Linked DNA regions of Homo sapiens. The protein of the gene in region 2 interacts with the protein of the main gene of each other region in a pairwise test. Each region holds a gene or a part of one and is shown on either strand. Other genes may lie near its edges.

Region 1 (3,912 bases), on a different chromosome or scaffold from region 2:
CATTCACTACTCCATGTTAGGTGCTTTACTTGGATTATCTCACTTAAAAACCACAACATTTTATCTCTGTTTTACAAAGGAAGAAACTAGAGGCTTAAAAGATTTCAGTTATTTGACAAAGATCACAAGCTAGTGAGTGTGACATGGGGAGCTGTGACAGTTCTGGAACATAGAGTCTTAGGCCCAGGAAATAACAGTAAATGTTATTATTAAGGGAGGGGTGGTGGAGCAAGTAGATCAGTCCTTTACTGATTCATTGCTTATCTAAGCTACAAAAGTACATTCTCCTTTGTTTCTTAGCTCTTGGAGGGGGGAGGTGTGAGCTACTAAAGGGGTGGCATCCCTAGGAAGTTTGAGTTTTGGGGATTCTTATTCAGCTTCCAGTGCAAGCCTGTGGGCAAGGAATGAAGGCGGAAGGAGCGGTGTGGAGGGAGGCGGTCCGTGGCGCCTCCTGCTTTGTTAATGTGCTTCATTTCACTCTTTTGATTGAATGATTGCCGGAAAGTGCAAGGCATTAAGAATTAAACTAATGAGAACCGAGGCAGGCGGACTGACTCAGATTTTAATTTTGATTTTTTTTTTTTTTTTTTAGATGAATGTGAAGAAGTAGAACATCAGTGCCAAAAGACTATTCAGCAACTGGAAACTGTCCTGGGAGAGCCACTCCAGAGCTATTTCTAAGACTTTCTGTGGTGTTTCATACTCTACTCAGAGTTCACACTCATATTTCATATTTTTATTTTTGGGTGTTGGGTGCCATGTTACTTTTGGTGCCTTAATACACCTACTTGGATTACTTACAAATGTTTTATCACTTCTTTACAAAATCCCCACCTGGCTTGTGCTGCCACATAAGCCTCTCCTGCCTATCGTATAGAGCTGCAGAAAGAGTAAATGATACACGGTATTTTTATACAGACTGCTGTGTTTGTTTAAACATTTATTATTCTCTTCCTGATTGATGGTAATAATATTAGACTTGTTAATTTTAGCACCCAAAGCTGACGCCTCATTTGCACTGTAAGCCTTAACTCTTCTGTACAGCAGTATCTTACATACATGGTATCCATGTTGCAGATTTCACTCAAAGTTGCTCTATTTCAAGAAAATGAAGTTATTTAGCAATCAACAGAAGTACTTTTGACTGTAAAGCCTACTTTTCATTTTGGGTAGGCGAACTTCAGCCTTCGTTTCTTTGTTGTGCCCATAAAGAGAAGTGGTTCTGGAATGCTTTTTTTAACCCAGGAGTGTGACTGTCACCTTTATCCTTTGTTCTTTTGGGAAACGGGAGAGATGAAGGCAACACGCTGCTTCTAAAACAGCTCACACCTGGCTGCTCACACAGAGGGCCCAGAAACACTGGGTGGCACGAGGAAGCTCCTCCAGGATTCAGAATGAACCCAGTTCCATTGGTGGTTAACTAAGAACTACTTGTCTAAGAAAGTAAGTATCAGTAGATTTTTTTCAATGCTTTGAAGTGCCCTAATCTCTAGTACTGGGTCATGGTGAAGTTGGAAAGTGAGGGTTCAAATAAAATTAGATCTGCCCCCTTTTTAAAGGCATCTAAGAACATCCCGTAGAATGTTCGCATTGAGTTTAAAAGCCTTTGAAGCTAATATAGAAGTTTAATGCAGAAATGTGGCAAGCAAAAGGCCAACTTGCATTTTAGAGACAGAGCTTGCTAGTATAGAAGTGCATATTTCTAAGAAATGTCTCAGTAAAATTCATTAATAAATACTAATAGCTTTTTAAATTTTTTTCCTCCACGTAAAATGAAAATGAACTTAAGACTTACAAGGAATGATGTGAGTGGGCTATTTTTTTCCTAAATGCCTCACAGTCTCCAACAGCTCAGTTAAGCACTCTGATGGTCTTTATGGAGAAAAATAACTCTGGGGGATTCTCGAGTCTTCTTGCCTTCTACAGCTTTCCCTGTGGCACCCTCCACCCCCAACCAGTGTCTTTGAGCTTGGTGAGACTCTGCATACATTAATATGAAAAGCTGGAAAAGAATTAAGGGCTAGCGATTTCTACACTGAGTACTTTTAAAAAAATAAGATTGACAATGGTATTCTTTTCAATATATGGATAGAAATAATATCTAAAATCTGTTCTGAAAATATTCCTAAATCCTGGCAGAGTTCTGCCCCAGTCTAATGTGATAAAATGATCCTCACTGACTGAGCTTTTTTCCCTCCCCACTCCCAAACCTTTGAAATTTCCTGTAACAAGATCTGACCTGTAAAGATCCCATATACATGGAACTTCTGCCAACTCCCCTCAAATAATAGAAAAATCACAGAAATGGAACCATTTAACTTGCTGATACAGGTTTGATTTTAATCACGTAAAGTGGAAGAGTGCTTTGATCTCAGTTGCTAATGATGATGGACTAATCTTTAGAAGAACGGAGGCCTTGATTGGTGATTTCATGGGAACAAAACAGATTTCTGCATTACCTCTGCCTGCTTTGTGGGTCCCTTAGTTGGCGTACACTTTCTGATAGTGCCTGCCTTATGAATGCCTGAAGTCTAATCCTGACCTTACTTTGTTGCCCATAAATATCTTTCAAATTGAATGCATCTTGCCTCTTCCTGAAACTTTCTGTAGGCGTCTGTGTAGACTCTGATTTGCCCTAAGTTCAAATACACAGAAATCAGCTGCCTTGGGCTTGGCATCAAGTTAATTTCAGCACCATGTATTTGTTTTGCTTTGGTTTTTTGCCTTAATTTCTGTGCTCAGATGTCATGCCAATTACTTGGTAAAGCTTGCAGCTAATAGAGCCACATGTTTATTACGATAAAGAAAATGATGTCAGTCAACATCAGTCCTCAGTGATGGGATACGGTAGAGCACTGGTTATGACAGTGATCACTGGGGAAGGAGTTGTGTCTTCTGTAAGTTAGTGTCTTCGGGTGATTTAATATCTGCATAACTAATCCCAGAGGACCCCTTAGGAGTTGATGTAATGCCTGTAGAAAAAGCAGTGCGCAGCAGTAGCGCACAGAAGAGTCGAAGCTCAAGAGAACAGGGAACATACTGGTTTGTTTCACCAAGTATATATCCTAGCTCTTCACAGTTTTACCAAAAAAAATCTGTGCTCAATACATGTTAGCTACTGTATTATAGTAGGTACTCCATAAATACTTGTTGAATGGCATTCTTGAAGAGTCAGCCAAAGTAGGAGAGAGGGCAGAGTGGCTTTAACTGGCTATAAGTGTTGCTGCCCCCAGTTTCCCCATTCAGTGCTAGACACCACCATACTTCATGGCAAGGACTGAGAACACCCAGCAGGACCTAATGGTGCACAAGCTCATTTTAACAATATAAACAATAGAATGACAGTGAGATGCGTTTCAGCAAGGCCAGTATCACAGAAGCCATTCTGTATTTTGGTTTTTGTAGCAGCTGTGTAGGTAGGCTACCAGCTCCTTACTTCCAGTAAGTGGATGTCTCCATTAATTTCCAGCGTGTCAATACTGCTGAGCTCTTTAAATCTGTGTTTGTACTCCAGGCTGTGTACGCCATTTACTGCAACCTTGAATTCTCTAACATCACAATAAATTATCATCTGAAAGGAAAGGATACATGCCATTAGTGGTTCCCCTTAGTTTAAAATTTTGTGTTTGTTACATGCTAACGGTGTCAGAGTAAACCATTTGATTATACATAGAAAAGTTCCAGCCTGCTGCTGCTGACTTCCTTCTGACTTCCAAGACCCTAATCTAACTAAAGTGTCCCTGGTGGTGGCACTGTCTGCCTCATCCCACCCAGGGAAGTGACTCGGACATGTTTGGAGCCTCACACCATCCCCAGGGCCTGCGGCCCTCCTTTCCTCAACACAGCCCCTCTCCCTCGGCCGCATCCTGCCCCTTGCTCCTGGAAAGCCAGAGTGCTGCCCCTCCTCGCCGA
Region 2 (3,912 bases):
ATTACAGGCGCGTGCCACCCAGCCCGGCTAATTTTTGTATTTTTAGTAGAGACAGGGTTTCTCCATGTTGGCCAAGCTGATCCCGAACTCCTGGCCTCAGGTGATCCACCCGCCTCAGCCTCCCAAAGTGCTAGGATTATAGGCGTGAGCCACCGCGCCTGGCACTTTTTTTTTTTTTTTTTTAAGATGGACTCTGGCTGTCGCCCAGGATGGAGTGCAGTGGCGCGATCTCGGCTCACTGCAAGCTCCGCCTCCCGGGTTCACACCATTCTCCTGCCTCAGCCTCCCGAGTAACTGGGACTACAGGCGCCTGCCACCATGCCCAGCTAATTTTTTGTATTTTTAGTAGAGACAGGGTTTCACCGTGTTAGCCAGGATGGTCTCGATCTCCTGACCTCGTGATCCGCCCGCCTCGGCCTTCCAAAGTGCAGGGATTACAGGCGTGAGCCACCGCGCCCGGCCGGCCGGGACTTTTTTTTTTTTTTTTTTTTTTTTTTTTACTTAACTAGTTATCTTGAGTAAGTAATGATGCGGCTGATGGGAAAGGGGAAGCTACAGGCCAGACAAGTGGACTCTCAATCACAAGCACGCCATGGAGCAGGGAGCCAGGGCCCTGAATGTGGAAGACCAGCCAGACTCAGGTATATGGAGGGAACATCCTTACTGTCCAGCCTCTCCTGATCTCTGTTGGCACCTTAGCCCAGCCAATCCTGTACCACGTGCACAGGGAACCTGCCTGCCTAGGTTTTTTCCACAGGAAGCTCCCTGGTCCTGGGTGGAGTCTGAGCCCACCAGGCCTTTCACACCCAAGAGCTCAGGGTGAGGCCTGGGGAGGAAGGCAGGGACCCACCAGCTCACGGTCCCCAACAAGGTGCCACTGAGAAGGCTGGGTAAAGGCTGCGGGGATAGATAGCTCTTGCGGCAGGCCTGGCGACTGATAAGTCCGGGCAGCACCCTAAGAGTTGGCACCCGCCCCTCTGCCCCGCACCCCAGGGCTTTGCTTCGCGCCCTCCGCCCGGACCCTGGCCCTTCTCTTCTTCGTCTGCGTGGAACTCCCTCCAGGGCAGGGCCTGGCACTGTGTAGTGAATGTCGGCCTCGTGGTGGACCCGAAGGAACCCTACAGTCAGCCCCAGAGCCGCGGGAGATCCACGCTGCGGCCGGCTCCGCCCCGCCCAACCCTCACCCTCACGCTCACGCTCACGCTCACGCTCACGCTCACGCTCACAGGCTCCCGGCTCCACATTCCTCGCAGGGCTCCAATCCGGACCCGCCCGCCTTGCCCTTCATCCTCAAAGACTCATTGGTCCCATTCCCCTCGGGCCCCGCCCTTCGCGTGCTTGGGCCATGCCCGTCCGACCGCGCTGCTTCCGCCTTGCAGCACCCCCTCAACCCCTTCTCTCGTAGGCCCTTCTACCCTCCCCGAAGCCGGGCTCCCGGGTTCCGCTTCCACAGGGCCGCCCCCTCTCCTCCGAGATCCAACGCCTCGCCCCTCGGTAAGAGGCCCAGGACTCAGCCCACGGCCCCGCCCCCCACTTGGCTAGTCCGCCCCTGGCGAGACCCCTGCTCTCACCCACCCAGGACTTCTCGCTCCCAGGCCGGGTCCTCTCACCGTCAAGGCCCGCCCCCTGCCAACGGTCCTCACCCATTAGCCGAAGGCCCCGCCCCTCACAGATTGCCGCAGGGCAGGGGCGGAGACAGCCCGGGCCGTCCCAGGCTCCGCCCCCGGAAGCCTCACTTCCGGGCGCGAGCACGCCCCGCCTCGCCCCGGCGGCAGAGAGGAGACTATGGAACGTCAGGTGAGGGCTCGGCCCGCGGTCCCCGTGGTCCCTGCAGCCCGGGCCGGGCCTGACCCTGGTGTGTCCCCTGCGCAGGTGCTGCTGAGCGAGCCCGAGGAGGCGGCGGCTCTGTATCGGGGCCTTAGCCGCCAGCCCGCGCTGAGCGCCGCCTGCCTGGGCCCGGAGGTCACCACGCAGTACGGCGGCCAATACCGGACGGTGCACACTGGTGTGTGTGCGAAGGGGAACTGGCTGGCGACGGGGTCGCGCACTGGGGTGGGAAGGAAGGGGGTGTGGAGGGCTCGCTGCTTGACAGTGCGTAAGGGTATATAGGGAGCCGGCCTGGACTTGGAGGTTACACTCCCACAGGTCCCTGCACACAGGTGTGTGGAGGGGGGGAGGGGGCGTGCGGGGCGTTATCGAATGGCGGCCATGAGTGCACGAGATGACGGCGTAGGGGTAGAAGTCAAACCTGGGCTCAGGGCGTGGACCTTGTAGGGCTCTCCACCAACACGCCATCCCATACACATGCCAGGCTGCCCTCAAGATTCCAGGGTGGATGCTGGGGTTACTAGGGGGTTCTCTCAAAGAGGCTGTCAGCTCAGGCTCTGGAGGCCTGGACTAGGGTTGTGGCCAAGTGTTGTCCAGCCTGCAGCCAGGGTGTCAGTGTCTGGAGACAGATTGAGAGATTGGGGAAGATAGATCTAGGCCTTCCTGGGTCAGGTGGGGCTGGGGGCAGTAGCCAGGAGTAGCCAAGACAAGGTGAGCAGTCTCATGCCTCCCCTCACAGAGTGGACCCAGAGGGACCTGGAACGCATGGAGAACATTCGATTCTGCCGCCAATACCTGGTGTTCCATGACGGGGACTCAGTGGTGTTTGCAGGACCTGCAGGCAACAGTGTGGAGACCCGGGGGGAGTAAGTTTGAGGGAGGAAGCTTGTGGGCAAGGCCACAGCCGTCCGCAATGCAAGCCTTTTATGAATGCTCACCATGTGCCTAGAAGGGAGGCCAGCAGCCAGGTTCTTGCCCCCTTGGGAGCTCATTCAGTTTCTGGTGACATGGCCTGATAAGCACTGGAAGCTTGCTCCAAACTCAGCCTGGACTAGAGCCCATGGTGGCCTGGGGAGTTGCAGAGAGTAGAGTCTCTGCCTCAGGGAGGAAAGGCAAGGTGGGGCTAGAGGTGCTCCAGAAGCTGGTGTGGGGCCAGAGCCTCAAGAATCTCTCCTAAGAGGTGTGCCCAGTAGGGAGCAGGAAGGGGTTATTGCAAGATAATCCTGACCTGTGCTACCCCATGTCCACAGACTGCTGAGCAGAGAGTCTCCTTCAGGCACCATGAAAGCTGTGCTGCGCAAGGCTGGAGGCACGGGCCCTGGGGAAGAGAAGCAGTTCCTGGAGGTGAGTCTGCATGGGACCAGGTAGTGGGTGACAAGAGAGAGGCTCTGCCCCACAGATAAGGCTCTGTTAGCGGGCAAACAGCCTAATGCCCAGATGTCCTCAGGTCTGGGAGAAGAACCGGAAGCTCAAGAGCTTCAACCTGTCAGCGCTGGAGAAACATGGGCCTGTTTATGAGGATGGTGAGGCATCTGGCTGGTGAGCAGGCAGGGTGGACAGGAGGGGTAGCCGTAGCCCTGGGCCCCCCCTGATTGGCCCTCCCTGCACCCAGACTGCTTTGGCTGCCTGTCCTGGTCGCACTCGGAGACACACTTGTTGTATGTGGCAGAGAAGAAGCGCCCCAAGGCCGAGTCCTTCTTTCAGACCAAAGCCTTGGACGTCAGTGCCAGCGATGATGAGATAGCCAGGCTGAAGAAGCCAGACCAAGCCATCAAGGTGCTCGTGGTCAATCCACGAAGGCCCGGCAGGGCAGCCCTGGGGCTCAGTGTGCTCCCTTCCCATACTGTGCCTGTCAGACCTGGGGAGGCACTAGCTTTTAGGAAGCAGAGCAGGTCCTATAGACAGGCTGGGCATTGAGTATCTTGTGTTCTCAGGGGGATCAGTTTGTGTTTTATGAAGACTGGGGAGAAAACATGGTTTCCAAAAGCATCCCTGTGCTCTGCGTGCTGGATGTCGAGAGTGGCAACATCTCTGTGCTTGAGGGGGTCCCTGAGAATGTGTCCCCTGGACAGGTCAGCAGCAACA

The links.
Region 1: the proteins of APEH (region 2) and LGALS8 interact in binary tests that used the Homo sapiens proteins (3 or more experiments, as listed by UniProt).

The regions. Positions count from the first base shown.
Region 1 is NC_000001.11:236,547,671-236,551,582, reverse strand, and holds part of LGALS8 (galectin-8), read right to left. Parts: exon of another isoform or gene 3,622-3,912; intron 3,572-3,621; coding exon 3,422-3,571; 3' UTR 682-3,421; coding exon of another isoform or gene 593-681; 3' UTR 1-592. Other genes in the region: HEATR1 (HEAT repeat-containing protein 1), read left to right, coding at 593-681.
Region 2 is NC_000003.12:49,672,617-49,676,528, forward strand, and holds the start of APEH (acylamino-acid-releasing enzyme), read left to right. Parts: upstream 1-1,785; coding exon 1,786-1,797; intron 1,798-1,872; coding exon 1,873-2,005; intron 2,006-2,566; coding exon 2,567-2,693; intron 2,694-3,077; coding exon 3,078-3,171; intron 3,172-3,274; coding exon 3,275-3,350; intron 3,351-3,439; coding exon 3,440-3,603; intron 3,604-3,761; coding exon 3,762-3,899; intron 3,900-3,912. UniProt on the Homo sapiens protein: This enzyme catalyzes the hydrolysis of the N-terminal peptide bond of an N-acetylated peptide to generate an N-acetylated amino acid and a peptide with a free N-terminus. It preferentially cleaves off Ac-Ala, Ac-Met and Ac-Ser.